Homo sapiens: one gene and its partners. The protein of the gene in region 1 interacts with the protein of each later gene in a biochemical or structural test. Each region holds a gene or a part of one and is shown on either strand. Other genes may lie near its edges.

Region 1 (5,293 bases):
AAGTAATTTATGTAGCAGTAGGTGATGAGTGCCATGAAAAATTTAAAAAGTTATGGGATGGACAGTGAGGGAGAAGTTGTTTTACGTGGGATAGTCATGGAAGCCTTCTCTGAAGAAGTTACATTTGAACAGAGAGTTGAAAAATGTGAGGTCTGTATATAAGGCATGTAGGTTAAAGTGCCCATGAGACATGTAAGAGGAGATATGGAATGGATAGTTAGATATGTTGAGTCTAGTGTTCAGAGAATAGGTTAGGGGTATTGACACAAATTTGGGAGCGATCAGCATCCATGTGGGATTTCAAGCCGTGAGACTGGATAGGATCAGTTCACCTAAGGAGTAACTGTTGACAGGAAAGAGAAGAGAGCCAATTACTGAGTTCAGTGGCCCTCTACCATTTAGAGGTTAGGAAAAGAAGGAGCATTCCACAAGTGAGACTGAGAAGGAGGAGAAAGAAGGCTGTTTCAAAGATTCCTTAAAATGAAGTGAAGTTCAAATAAACATCATCGTTTTGACTATTTTAGAATGCCCTTGCCATTTTCATGAATGTTAGATACATTTGCATACCAGATAATGGAAGCCAGTATATTTTTAAATGTTGATTCTTTGCTTAAGATAAGCTTTATATAGTAAAGGTTACCTGTTTCACAGTGATTTGGCTAGAAGGAAATAAGTGTTGTGATAGCAGAGTCAAATTTTCTTTATTTTCTGCAGGGTAGTTTTTTATTTTTTTCAACATAAAGATTTACTGTGATGATAGCAGTTTTGCTTTAGCACAGTAGTTTTCAAACTTCAGCTATTTATGCATCACTTTTATGATTTTTGCTGTATCTTTTTAATATGATTTATTAGTACTGTGATTTTGCAGTTTCTGCTCTCATATATATCAGTATTTTGCAAACTTAAGTACATGAAATACATCTGTAGAACTTATTAAAACTGTTTGTTCCAACCCCTAGAATTTTCTATTCTGAAGGTTTGGGTTTCTGGCTTAAGGGTTTCCACTTCCAACAAGTCTCCAGGTAATGCTGGTGCTGTTGCTGCTGGTTTAGGGACCACACTATGAGAATCACTGACCTATACTATTATTTATTTTCCCTTAAGTACCATTTTTTAAAAAGGAGATATTTTTTCTCTCTTAAAATCAAATAGATACTATTACCTGCTGTAAATGGTCTGAGGCTGAGACATAACTTTTGTATATGTTTGGTGAAAAGATCTGGTGAAGGTTGGAAGACTGGTAAAACAAACCCACACTTTTGTCCTTAATGTAAAGTGAAAGGATCAAAAGAAAATGGAGGAAGGGGAAGCAACGTGCTTACCATTTTATTAAAGATTGTTTAATTCTGTGTCTATGAACTGCTTACCTTACATATAGTACCAGTGGTATGATATGCAATATTTTAGCAAGTAACTGCTTTAGAATATGATTAAGTACTTGGTTCACTGTCATTGTGACCGTGAGCCTACAATGTTTGTATGTTGTCAGGTATATTCAGCATGTTGTGTATTGATTTACAGAATTAGCGTTATAGAAAAATTATGGAAGAATAAAACAGAACAACATGCTAATCTGATATGTATATATTGTCCTAAGAAAATTCTGTTTATTGGCCAAGACTTTTATTTTAGTAATGCAGAGTAGAAAGCACTTAATTTTTCTGCTTAGACAATGTTCTAAATAGATTGGATTTTTTCCCTTTTTAAAATTTATTTTCAAAAAGTCACTCTCTTAGTAGTCATGGCTCTAGAACCAAATATACAATTTTAATAGTACTTAACATTATTTTATGTTATGAAATCATAGGCTTAGGCCACTATAGATGTCAGTTTTTTGAGTAGCAGCATCAGTAACCACGAGTCATACTTAACTTTAAATGGGAATGTGGTCACAAAAGGCACGTTGAAACGCTGCTGATTCCCTGCCCCATTTCAAAAGATGATTGGTGACAAGATACCCAGATGGTTGGGACAACTTTAAGCAAGGTGATTGAAGAAGGTACCAACAGGACAACTTGAACTTGGGTACCTGTGGCTTCTTAGAAATGAATAGCAGTTACCAGATGTTGTTTTAGTAACTGTTGCTGCATAAGAAATTCTGCTACAATTTAGCAGCTTAAAACAAACACAGTTTCTGGATCAGGTAGGAATCCCGTTGCCACTTAACTGGGTGTTTCTGACCCAGCATCTTTCACAAGCCTGCAGCTAAGCTGTTGTCTGGGACTGCATTCATCTCAGAGCTTGCTAGGGAGAATTTCTGCTTCCAAGCTTCCTCACATGGCTGTTGGCAGACCTCAGAAAAGATACTGTAGGAGTGGATAACAATGCTAGAGTAAAAGTTCAAGCATATTCTTTATCTTCAACATTTGAAAAGCTCTGATTTAGGACTGTATGACAGGAACTAGGATGGTTTGAAGACTAGCACATTCCCGACAATGAACAATTTACAAGCAGCAAGTGGCTCTTTGATATGATGTGATTTTTGTTTTATGATTTCACAGTATAGCAACATTTTGGCAAATAATTCTAGATAGCAAATGAAAATGACTCCTAATGGAAGATTAACAAAGGAAACTAAGCATGATGGGTAAGAATCTCAGAAACAACTACCTTTGAGAATTAATCTTATTGATTCTCTTTAAAACTCATGTTTACATATTGTTTTAAGAATTTTTTCATATTTACATGCAAGTACTGTTTTAAATAATTCTCACATCTCTCTACTTTTCTTCATTCCAGCTGATACCACTGTAAGTTCAGGTTCCCACTGAGTCCATTCAGAATTATTGCAACTTGACTTCTAACTAGATTCTTCCCTCCAGCCTTATTTAAAAGGAAGAAATTCCCCTCAGAGCCATTCTCCAACTTTTTATGAAGTGTTCTTTGTTTTTTAAGATCAACTTTGGGGTATAATTAATATATAATAAAGCGAACACATTTTAAGTGTAGTTTTTGGGTTTTGACAATTGTATACATTGGTGTAGCCACCCTGATCAGTATGTAGTATACAATTTCATCTTCCTAGAAAATTCCCTTGTGTATCTTCCCAGTCAGTCCTCACCCTCTACCCCTAGCCTCGGGCAGCCACTAATTTGCTCTTTATTTTGATAGGTGAGATTTATCTTTCTAATGTTTAATATAAATGGGATCATGCTGTATGTGGTTTTTTGTGCCAGCGTCTTTCACGTAGCATAATGTTTGAGAGACTTATCCATGTCATTTTATGTATTAGTTGTTCTTTCCTTTTATTGGGAGTATTATTCCATCCTCAGGCAATTTATTTATATCCATTCACTGGATATGCACCTTGCTTATCCATTCACTGTCTATGTTCGTTTGGTTATATTTTCATTTTTGGCTGTTATCAGAGGTCGGCAAGCTAAGGCATTAGCCACCTGTTATTACGAAAAGTTTTGTTGGAAAACATCAATGCTGGTTCCTTTTGTGTTTTCTATAGCTGCATTCATGCTGCAGTGGCAGAGCTGAGTAATTGTTACAGGTACACAGCCCCCAAAGCCTAAAATGTGACTACTTGACCATTGAAGAAAATATTGTCAACCTCTGCTGTTAGGAATAAAGTTCATTCCTGTAAAACATTCATGTACAGGTGTTTGTGTGGACATACGTTTTCATTTTTCTTTTACTTCCTAGAACTATAATTGTTGGGTAGATGTTTGAGTTTATAAGAAATTCAGTTTATAAGACGTTAGGTTAACACACTTAAGATGTTTGCTTAAGTATATGAGAATTTGGGTATATAAGAATTGCTGGATCATTTGGTGTATATTTAAGTATATATGAAATTACCTTTCTCAAAGTGATAGTACCATTTTACATTTTCACCACCAGAGTATGAGAGTTCTATTTGCTGTATATCCTCTTTGACATGTTATGTTGTCAGGGTTTTTTTTTTCTCTTTAATTTTAGCCAATCTAGTAGGTGTATAGTGGTATTTCAGTGTGGTTTTAATTTTCATTTCTTGATGACTAATGATGTTGAGCATCTTTTTAGGTTCTTTTTGGTCATTTGTGTTTTCTTGATGGAGAATCTGTCCGAATCTTTTGCCTTTTTGGTACTGGGTTAATCTGTTGTTAAGTAGTAAGGACTGTTTATATATTCTAGATACAAGTCCTTTGTTATTTGTGTTATGAATATTTTCTCCTAATCTGTAACTTAAAAATTTTATATAAAGAAGGTTTTGGCCTAGTATGGTGGCTCATCCTTGTAATCCCAGTGCTTTGGGAGGCCAAGGTGAGAGGACCGCTTGAGGCCAGGAGTTTGAGACGAGCCTGGGTGACACAGTGAGACTCTGTCTCTACAAAAATAAAAGTAAAAAAAAAAAAAAAAGTAGCCAGGCATGGTGGTATATAACAGTAGTCCTAACTACATGGGAGGCTGAGGCAGGATGGTTGCTTGAGCCCAGGAGTTTGAGGCTGTGGTGAGCAATGACAGCACTACTGCAGTCCTGCTCGAGCTACACAGTGAGGCCCTGTCTCTAATGATAATAATGATAATAATAACAAAAGATTTCATTTTATTTCTCCAGTTTTCTAGTTGTGTAAAATGGGAGGATAAATCTGGTTTGCTTACTTCTTTGTGGATAAAAGCCATGTATACTTCCTGCTTTATACAAAGCCTTCTCCTATGGCTAAGATTTTTCTTTTACCATTCCCGTAGTCCCTATCTTTTTTTTTTTTTAATCCTGAATAACTTCTCTGTATGTTCAGGTCTCAGCTTAAAATTTACTTCTCTGGAAAACCTTCCCAAATCCTAAAACATATGGTAGGTGCTTTTTAAATATGCTTTTATAGCTCTGTATGCTTCTCCATGTTTTTATTGCCCTTAGATTTTAAGGTTTTTCAGGACAGGGACAGTGAATTTTTTTTGTTCATGGCTGTATCCTTTGGGGCTATCAGAAACTAAAGTCTGGCAAAGACTTGGTATCCAGAGGTCTCCTGAATGAGTAAGTGTTTAGAATATCAGTAATAGGAGGCATGTGTTACCTATACACTTTCTGAGCATAGATGAAATTTTTGTTTGTTATAATTCTTTTCAAATTCATTGAAAGTAACCATTCTGTTTTGTTCTTATTGAAATTTAAAAGATGACAGTAGTGCATTTTGATCTTGGTGGCAGTACTCAGTCTTCCAGAAGGTTTGCATTACTCTTGTGCTCAAGTATTCTGCATATTACAGAACCCATCTGAATGTTCACAATTCAGAAAAGCTTTCAGTTGTGTTTTCAAAACTGGTTTGTTCTATAGGCTTCCTTTAGACATTGAGGTGCTTAAAGG
Region 2 (3,500 bases), on another chromosome or scaffold:
GCCTGGGCAGGAGTAGCCAGCAAGATAGGGAGGAAACCAGGAGAAGGGGCTGTTCTGAAAGCCAAGGGTGGAGTGCAGTGGCACAATCTCAGCTCACTGCAACGTCCGCCTCCTGGGTTCAAGCGATTCTCTTGCTTCGGCCTCCCGAGTAGCTGGGACTACAGGCGCGTGTCACCACACTCTGCTAATTTTTTGTATTTTTTTTTTTTGAGATGGAGTCTCGCTCTGTTGCCCAGGCTGGAGTGCAGTGGCGCGATCCCGGGTTCACGCCATTCTCCTGCCTCCCGGGTTCACGCCATTCTCCTGCCTCAGCCTCCTGGGTAGCTGGGGCTACAGGCGCCCGCTACCATGCCTGGCTAATTTTTTGTATTTTTAGTAGAGACAGGGTTTCACTGTGTTAGCCAGGATGGTCTCAATCTCCTGACCTCATGATCCACCCGTGTCGGCCTCCCAAAGTGCTGGGATTACAGGCGTGAGCCACCGTGACCGGCAATTTTTTTTTTTTTTTTTAGTAGAGGCAGGGTTTCACCGTGTTAGCCAGGCTGGTCTCGATCTCCTGACCTCATGATTGGCCCGCCTCGGCCTCCCAAAGTGCTGGGATTACAGGTGTGAGCCACTGCGCCCGGCCAGACATTTTAATCTCACAGTTCTGGAGACTAGAAGTCCAAAACCAAAGGGTTAGCAAGCACACACCCTCAAAGGCTCTAAGAGGGCAATCCTCCCTTGCCTCTCCCAAGCTTCTGCCCCATTTATTCCTGGGCTTGTGGCTGCCTCACTCCAGTCTCCGAGGCAGTCCCGACATGGCCTCCTCCCCTTGCGTCTCCCTCTGGCTTCTCTCTTCTGTCTCTCATAAAGACACGTTGTTGGATTTAGGGCCCACCCACGTCACCCAGAATGATCTCATCTTGAGATCCTACATCTGCAAAGACCCTTTTCCCGAATCACATATGTTTCAGGGGTTAGAACATGGGCATATCTTTTCGGGGGGCTACCATTCAGCCCACTACACTGGATGAGGGGCCGGTACCCTCCACTTCTCCTGCTTGGAGGTGTGTAGGGGATCAGGATTCCCAGCATACTGACATCTCCCTCCACAAACAGTCTTGTCCCGACTCTCCCATCTCTGGTGAAATTCTTCTATTTCCAGCCTGGAGCTAGGCCTTTTCAAGTCCCACATGGGTGGTCCAGCACCTCCCTTTGGAATGGGAGTATCTGCTACCCCTTAGACTGAAAACCCACTTTAGCATCCTGATACACTAGGTGAATTATCAGCATTCTGTTTAAAATGTAGCCCCAGAACTCATAGGCTTTTTCTGCTGGGTAAGGATGTGGGTCTCCTGTGACTCCCCTGCTGCCTTTCTCTTTCAGCCCTTGCCCTGTTGGATGAATAGGCACCTCTGGAAGAGCCAACTGTGTGAGATGGTGCAGCCCAGTGGTGGCCCGGCAGCAGATCAGGACGTACTGGGCGAAGAGTCTCCTCTGGGGAAGCCAGCCATGCTGCACCTGCCTTCAGAACAGGGCGCTCCTGAGACCCTCCAGCGCTGCCTGGAGGAGAATCAAGAGCTCCGAGGTGAGGAAAGAGTCAGGGGATCCAGCCCTGCTGAGGGGAAGGCGTCTTCTCCCCACCTGCACCTCTGCGTTTCCTGGGCCTGGGGTGGGGATGTGCTGCCCTCCCTCTTGGTTTCAGGAAGTAGACTCTGAGATGCAGATTAGCGGGGAGGAAGTTTAGCATGCTCTCAGGACCAGTACTGGGAAGGGAAAGGAGGGACAGGGGAAGAAGCCAGGGAGGGCAGAGGGAGAAGCACGCTGCCGGGTAGGCTCCAGGACAGCCTTGCTGGATCTTACAGGGAGCTCTGGAGCTGGAATGAACCTTCCAGGTTGGACCAACATGTCCAGGCCTCTGTGTCCCTGCACTGAGCACTCATGAAGTGCTGTCCATCCTGGGACAGGGCAGAGTCGGCGCTGGGAAGAGGCGTGGTCTGCCCAGAGAGGGGGTGGGGCCTGTCCTGGAAATGGGCGGGGCATGCCCTGGTAGAGGGGCGTGGTCTGTCTTGGGAAGGAAGGTGCGTGGCCCCCACAGGCAACATTCCTCTGGGGCAATCCCGGCGCACACCTCAGCGGAGGTGAAGGCTGACTTCCCACACCCAGTGGCTGGGACTGGGGAGTTCTTTCCTAGACTGCCATCCGGGCGCCCCTCACCCTCTTGCTGCTCAGCTCCAGGTCGTCATGGGTTCAGGGCTCAGCTGCACGCTCCTGCCCGCGCCCTGGGCGTGATGGCACCCCCAGCCCCTGCCATTCTTCCCCCTCACCCCCTCTCCCTGCCACTGCTCTGCATTGCCCTGGGTTAGCCTGGCGGGGCCAGGTGGCACCCGCCATATACTCTTGCCTTTCTGCTGCGGGGGCCTTCTAAGCCTCGGGTCCCAGAGCTGCAGGGAGGGGCGGCATAGACTCCCCACATGGCTCACTGGGTGTGGTGGGGCCTGTAGCCCTTTTTGTTTCATCCTTTGGTTCCTGCTGGGGACTCAGGCCTAAGTGTCCACCCCATCGTGGAGGACAACACCCCTTCCTTGCAGGAGTCATCCCTGAGCTGGCAGCTTCAATTGGCTCTCCGTGTCCTGGCTGGCTGGCAGCTCCTGGGCGAGGTGGCATGTGCCGTGACTACTAGAGATCGCTGTCATGGGCCCACTCCCCCGCCTTCTTTGCTGGACTGTGGTCCGAGATGTTATGTGGGGCTCTGTGCTGACAAGTCACATAGTCTGTAGGCTTCAGAGAGTGGCTCTGGCTGACACCCCGTGGGCAGAGACAAGACCCATGCCTGCGATGTGTCTCCTCTTACTGTCAAGGCAAATCACCTTTCCTTCCATGGAGGAAGGGGTCAGTGCAGTCAGCTTGCTGTCAGGGGGCTGCTTGGTCTCCTCGACGGTGAGGCTGAATTGGAGAGGCCCTGCTGGAGCATGGAGACCCAACATGACCTGCCTGTTCCAGGACAGGGTCCCCCACCTCAGTGCCATCGGCACCTGGGGCTGGAGAATTCTCTTGTACGTTGTAGGGTGTGGAGCAGAGTCCCTGGCCTGTACCTGCTAGATGCCAGTAGCACCTGTCCTGTTGTGACAACTAACAATATCCCCAGATATTTATTGCCAAATGACCCCTGGGGGATACAGTTGTCCCTGGTGAGACCCACTGTATTGGGATCTTCAAAGCACTGGTGCACAGAGAGGTGACAGTTAGACTGGGGGCTTCTGCTCATCCCCAGGAGAGTGCTCTATTGAGGGGGACTTGAGGGTGAGTGTTGCAGGCCAGCTGTGCAGGGACCCTGGCACAGCGTATGGCGCCCTTGCTTCCCTTCCAGGCTGTGTGTTCAGTGCAGCAGCTTCCCTCGGGCTCCAGGGACACAAGGAGGCCTCAAGGCTGTATTGACTCCCCCTGCTCCGCCTGACCTGAGCTTTGTGGGTGGCAGGTGAAACTTGGTAGCTCCATGTGTCAGGCCCTGGGCCAAG
Region 3 (3,500 bases), on another chromosome or scaffold:
ATTTTGACCGCTATTTAGAAGAGTGACCTCATAAATCTTTTAGCAAAGTAGACACACATACCTACCACATTTCTTAAAAGTAGATTCGTATTTTGATTTGAGATTGTTGAAAAGCATGGTATGTTTGGAGTGCACTTAGTTATGTCCCATCTCATAAAGACTGTTGAGCTCTCTGCACTGCTGATGATGAAGCATTGCATGAACCCAGAAAACGGGGATGCCAAAGCACAGGGCTTAGGTGCTGTTCCTTGCGTCATCAGCAGAGGTCTGTCCACTTTGTAGAAGGTAAGGGGTTGAGATGTGGGCTTTGCTTGTGTGAATGTATGTGCTGTTTAATTTTTTCTGTGTGTTTCGGGCGGAGGTTTCTCTGGTGAGTTATAATTCATATTTACCCTGATTTAAGTCATGTCACTTTAGGTAGCCAGATTCAAAACCATCAGATGAAGGACTTTTGGTGTTAGAGGGATTAGCAGTTTAACAAAACTTCTGATTCATGGCCCAAGATCAGATTTGGTTTGGAATCAGAACACTTTGGACTAGTTTCTGCATCTGGCTTGAGTCCTTGTGGATTTCTTGTTTTATTTCTTTATTTTTGGCAATCTGTAGTGCATTTTGGCATAGTTTACTTATGAATGTTACCGCTAACTTTCTGAAATCTTTTATTCCATTTTAGAAAGGTATCATTTATTGAAAAGATTTTTCTACTGAACAAAATACTGGGATTGAATGGCAGCTTCTTATCACATTAGATATGACATTAAGTAATTTCGTTAGTAGTTAAAATGAAGCAAATGGCATAGAAATGAAGGCCAGGCTGACATAGGATAAATGGCACCTTCTCTCCTTATCCTGTACAAACACGGATAGTTGGCTACTTTTGAATGCCTCTTCTATACCAATGGTAAAAATCCGGCTTAATTGGGGCCACATTCTAGCCTAGTCACAATCAGTGGCTTGCATTATGTCCTTTGAGATGTGGCAGATCTGCTTATAGGTGCCAGTCACCACGGCTCCCTGCTGGCTTGGGGGTCTTTCTACTCATTTACATATAATTATCTACTTCTTAATCAACCATTAAGGTTAACTTTTGGCATGGATCCTGTATGCTTTTCAGTTTAAGATGCTGTCACTTTTAAGATGCGCCATGAGAGCAAAGTGCTAAGCCTTGTGCACATACTATGTCATTTAGTTCTCATGAGAACTGTGTGAGGTAGGCTGTGATTTACAGATGAGGAATGAAAGCTCAAAGAGGTTACGTGACCTGCATAAGGACACAAAACAAGTTAAGTTATGGAGCCAGCTATTTTGAATAGAAAGGCCTAGTTTTTAACATGCTGAATATCCTCCCCTTCTGACAAATGCCTTGAAAGGTCTTACTATCTAGATTATTTAAGATAATGTAAGAGAAATAAACACCACTGGTTGCAAACTGATGGCTGCTGGGCCCGATTTGACCAGGAACCCTGCTTAATGTGGTCTCTAGAGTGTTTTAAAGCTTGGAAATTTCATGAAAATGGTAAAAATCTGGCTTAATTGGGGCCACATTCTAACCTAGTTACAGTCAGTGGCTGGCATTATGTCCTTTGAGATGTGGCAGCTAGTTGTGCTATGGTTGCAGTCACCACTACTTTCTGTTGTCTTAGGGGTCTTTCTACTTGTTTACATATAATTATCCACTTCATAACAAACCTTTAAGGCTAACCTTTGGCGTGGATGCCATATTTCTTTCACTTTAGTGTGCTGTCACTTTTAAGATATGCCATTATTTCATGTACCACGAAGAAAAAATTGCTGTCAAGTTATGACATACTGTCCATCTTATGAAGCATCCTTATTTCAGAGAAGTTGAAATATGAGAAAAAGGATATTTTAGAATTGATGAATTACAGTGACTAGAAACCTGGGAAAACTCCATGCCATCAGTTTCAATATCCCCAATCATTCAGTACTTTTAAGTCAACGAGTAGTCAGATTTCTGCTTTTCTGTGTTTGAGGAAAGTGCTAGAAAAAGAGAAGTGCTCTTAAATAGGCATTAGCACAGAAGGAACTGGGGGCCTAGATCATAGCCAACTGGATGGCCGTCTGTAAGTGATTAAGAATAGTTGTTAGTTTTTAAAAAGTGGCCTGTGTGTATTTTCAAGAGATTACTTGGGAAACCCTATGTGCCATCTTTGCAGCTGTGCAAAACGGTGAGGACAAGATTGCTTTCAAAAATTGTGGTTTAGATTTTGCTTGGATCTCAAGGTGAATGCTGACAGGCCGTTTTCTGAAGAGAGAGAAGGCTTGCCCAGTCATGCCAAGTCCAAGTGCCTGTGTCGGGCCTAGATGCTGGATGGTAGACTGTATACCCAGGACATATAGGTAATGTTTGAGAAACAAATGTTAAAAGGACCTAGTTTTCATGGTGACATTTAAAATCAGTTTTTAAAATTCATGAATATAACATGTTGTTTTAAAATTTGATTATAGGGACCGGGTGCAGTGATCACTCCTGTAATCCTAGCATTTTGGGAGGCCGAGGCAGGAGAATCACTTGAGTTCAGGAGTTTGAGGCCAGGCTGGGCAACGTGGTGAAACCCCGTCTCTACAAAAAATAGAAAAGTTAGCCAAACATGGCGGCACGTGCCTGTAGTCCCAGCTACTTGGGAGGCTGAGGTGGAAGGATCACTTAAACCTGGAGGCAGAGGTTGCAGTGAGCCAAGATCATGCCACTGCACTCTAGCCTGGGCGACAGAGTGAGACCCTGTCTCCAAAAAAAAAAAAAAAAAAAAAAAGACTAATGAATAGAATTTATTTTCTTCAATGATGTAGTGTCTGTGGAATTTGTAGACATTGACATTTGAATTTTCATTATATTTAGTTTTATTAAATCAGAATGTTATGATTGTTTATTTCATTATTGAACATCAGTTTCCTTAATTTAAGGAATAAAAATAATTTTGCTCAGGCCAGACATAGTGGCTCACATCTGTAATCCCAGCACGTTGGAGGCCAAGGCTGGTGGATCACTTGAGGTCAGGAGTTTGAGACCAGCCCAGCCAACATGGTGAAACCCTGTCTCTACAAAATAAATAAATAAATAAATGAAAAAAAAATCAGCTGGGTGTGGTGGTGGACACCTGTAATCCCAGCTACTCTGGAGGCTGAGGCAGGAGAATAGCTTGAACCCTGAAGGCAGAGATTGCAGTGAGCCGAGATCGCACCACTGCACTCCAGACTGGGTGACAGAGTGAGACTCTGTCACAATAATAACAGGCTGGGGCAGTGGCTCATGCCCGTAATCCCAGCACTTTGGGAGGCCGAGGCTGGAGGATCACCTGAGGTCAGGAGTTTGAGACCAGCCTGGCCAACATGGTGAAACTCCGTCTTTACTAAAAATACAAAAATTAGCTGGGCTTGGTGGCAGGCAACTGTAATCCCAGTTACTCGGGAGGCTGAGGCAGGAGAATTGCTTGAACCTGGGAGGCAGAGGTTGCAGTGAGACAAGTTCGGGCCATTGT

The links.
Region 2: the proteins of TMA16 (region 1) and IKBKG form a complex in vitro, tested with the Homo sapiens proteins (one study listed by BioGRID and IntAct).
Region 3: the proteins of TMA16 (region 1) and NEDD4L form a complex in vitro, tested with the Homo sapiens proteins (one large-scale study listed by BioGRID).

What each region holds. Positions count from the first base shown.
Region 1 is NC_000004.12:163,507,329-163,512,621, forward strand, and holds part of TMA16 (translation machinery-associated protein 16), read left to right. Parts: intron 1-5,293. UniProt on the Homo sapiens protein: Involved in the biogenesis of the 60S ribosomal subunit in the nucleus.
Region 2 is NC_000023.11:154,550,620-154,554,119, forward strand, and holds part of IKBKG (NF-kappa-B essential modulator), read left to right. Parts: intron 1-1,368; coding exon of another isoform or gene 1,369-1,383; coding exon 1,384-1,570; intron 1,571-3,500. UniProt on the Homo sapiens protein: Regulatory subunit of the IKK core complex which phosphorylates inhibitors of NF-kappa-B thus leading to the dissociation of the inhibitor/NF-kappa-B complex and ultimately the degradation of the inhibitor.
Region 3 is NC_000018.10:58,047,226-58,050,725, forward strand, and holds part of NEDD4L (E3 ubiquitin-protein ligase NEDD4-like), read left to right. Parts: exon of another isoform or gene 1-285; intron 286-3,500. UniProt on the Homo sapiens protein: E3 ubiquitin-protein ligase that mediates the polyubiquitination of lysine and cysteine residues on target proteins and is thereby implicated in the regulation of various signaling pathways including autophagy, innate immunity or DNA repair.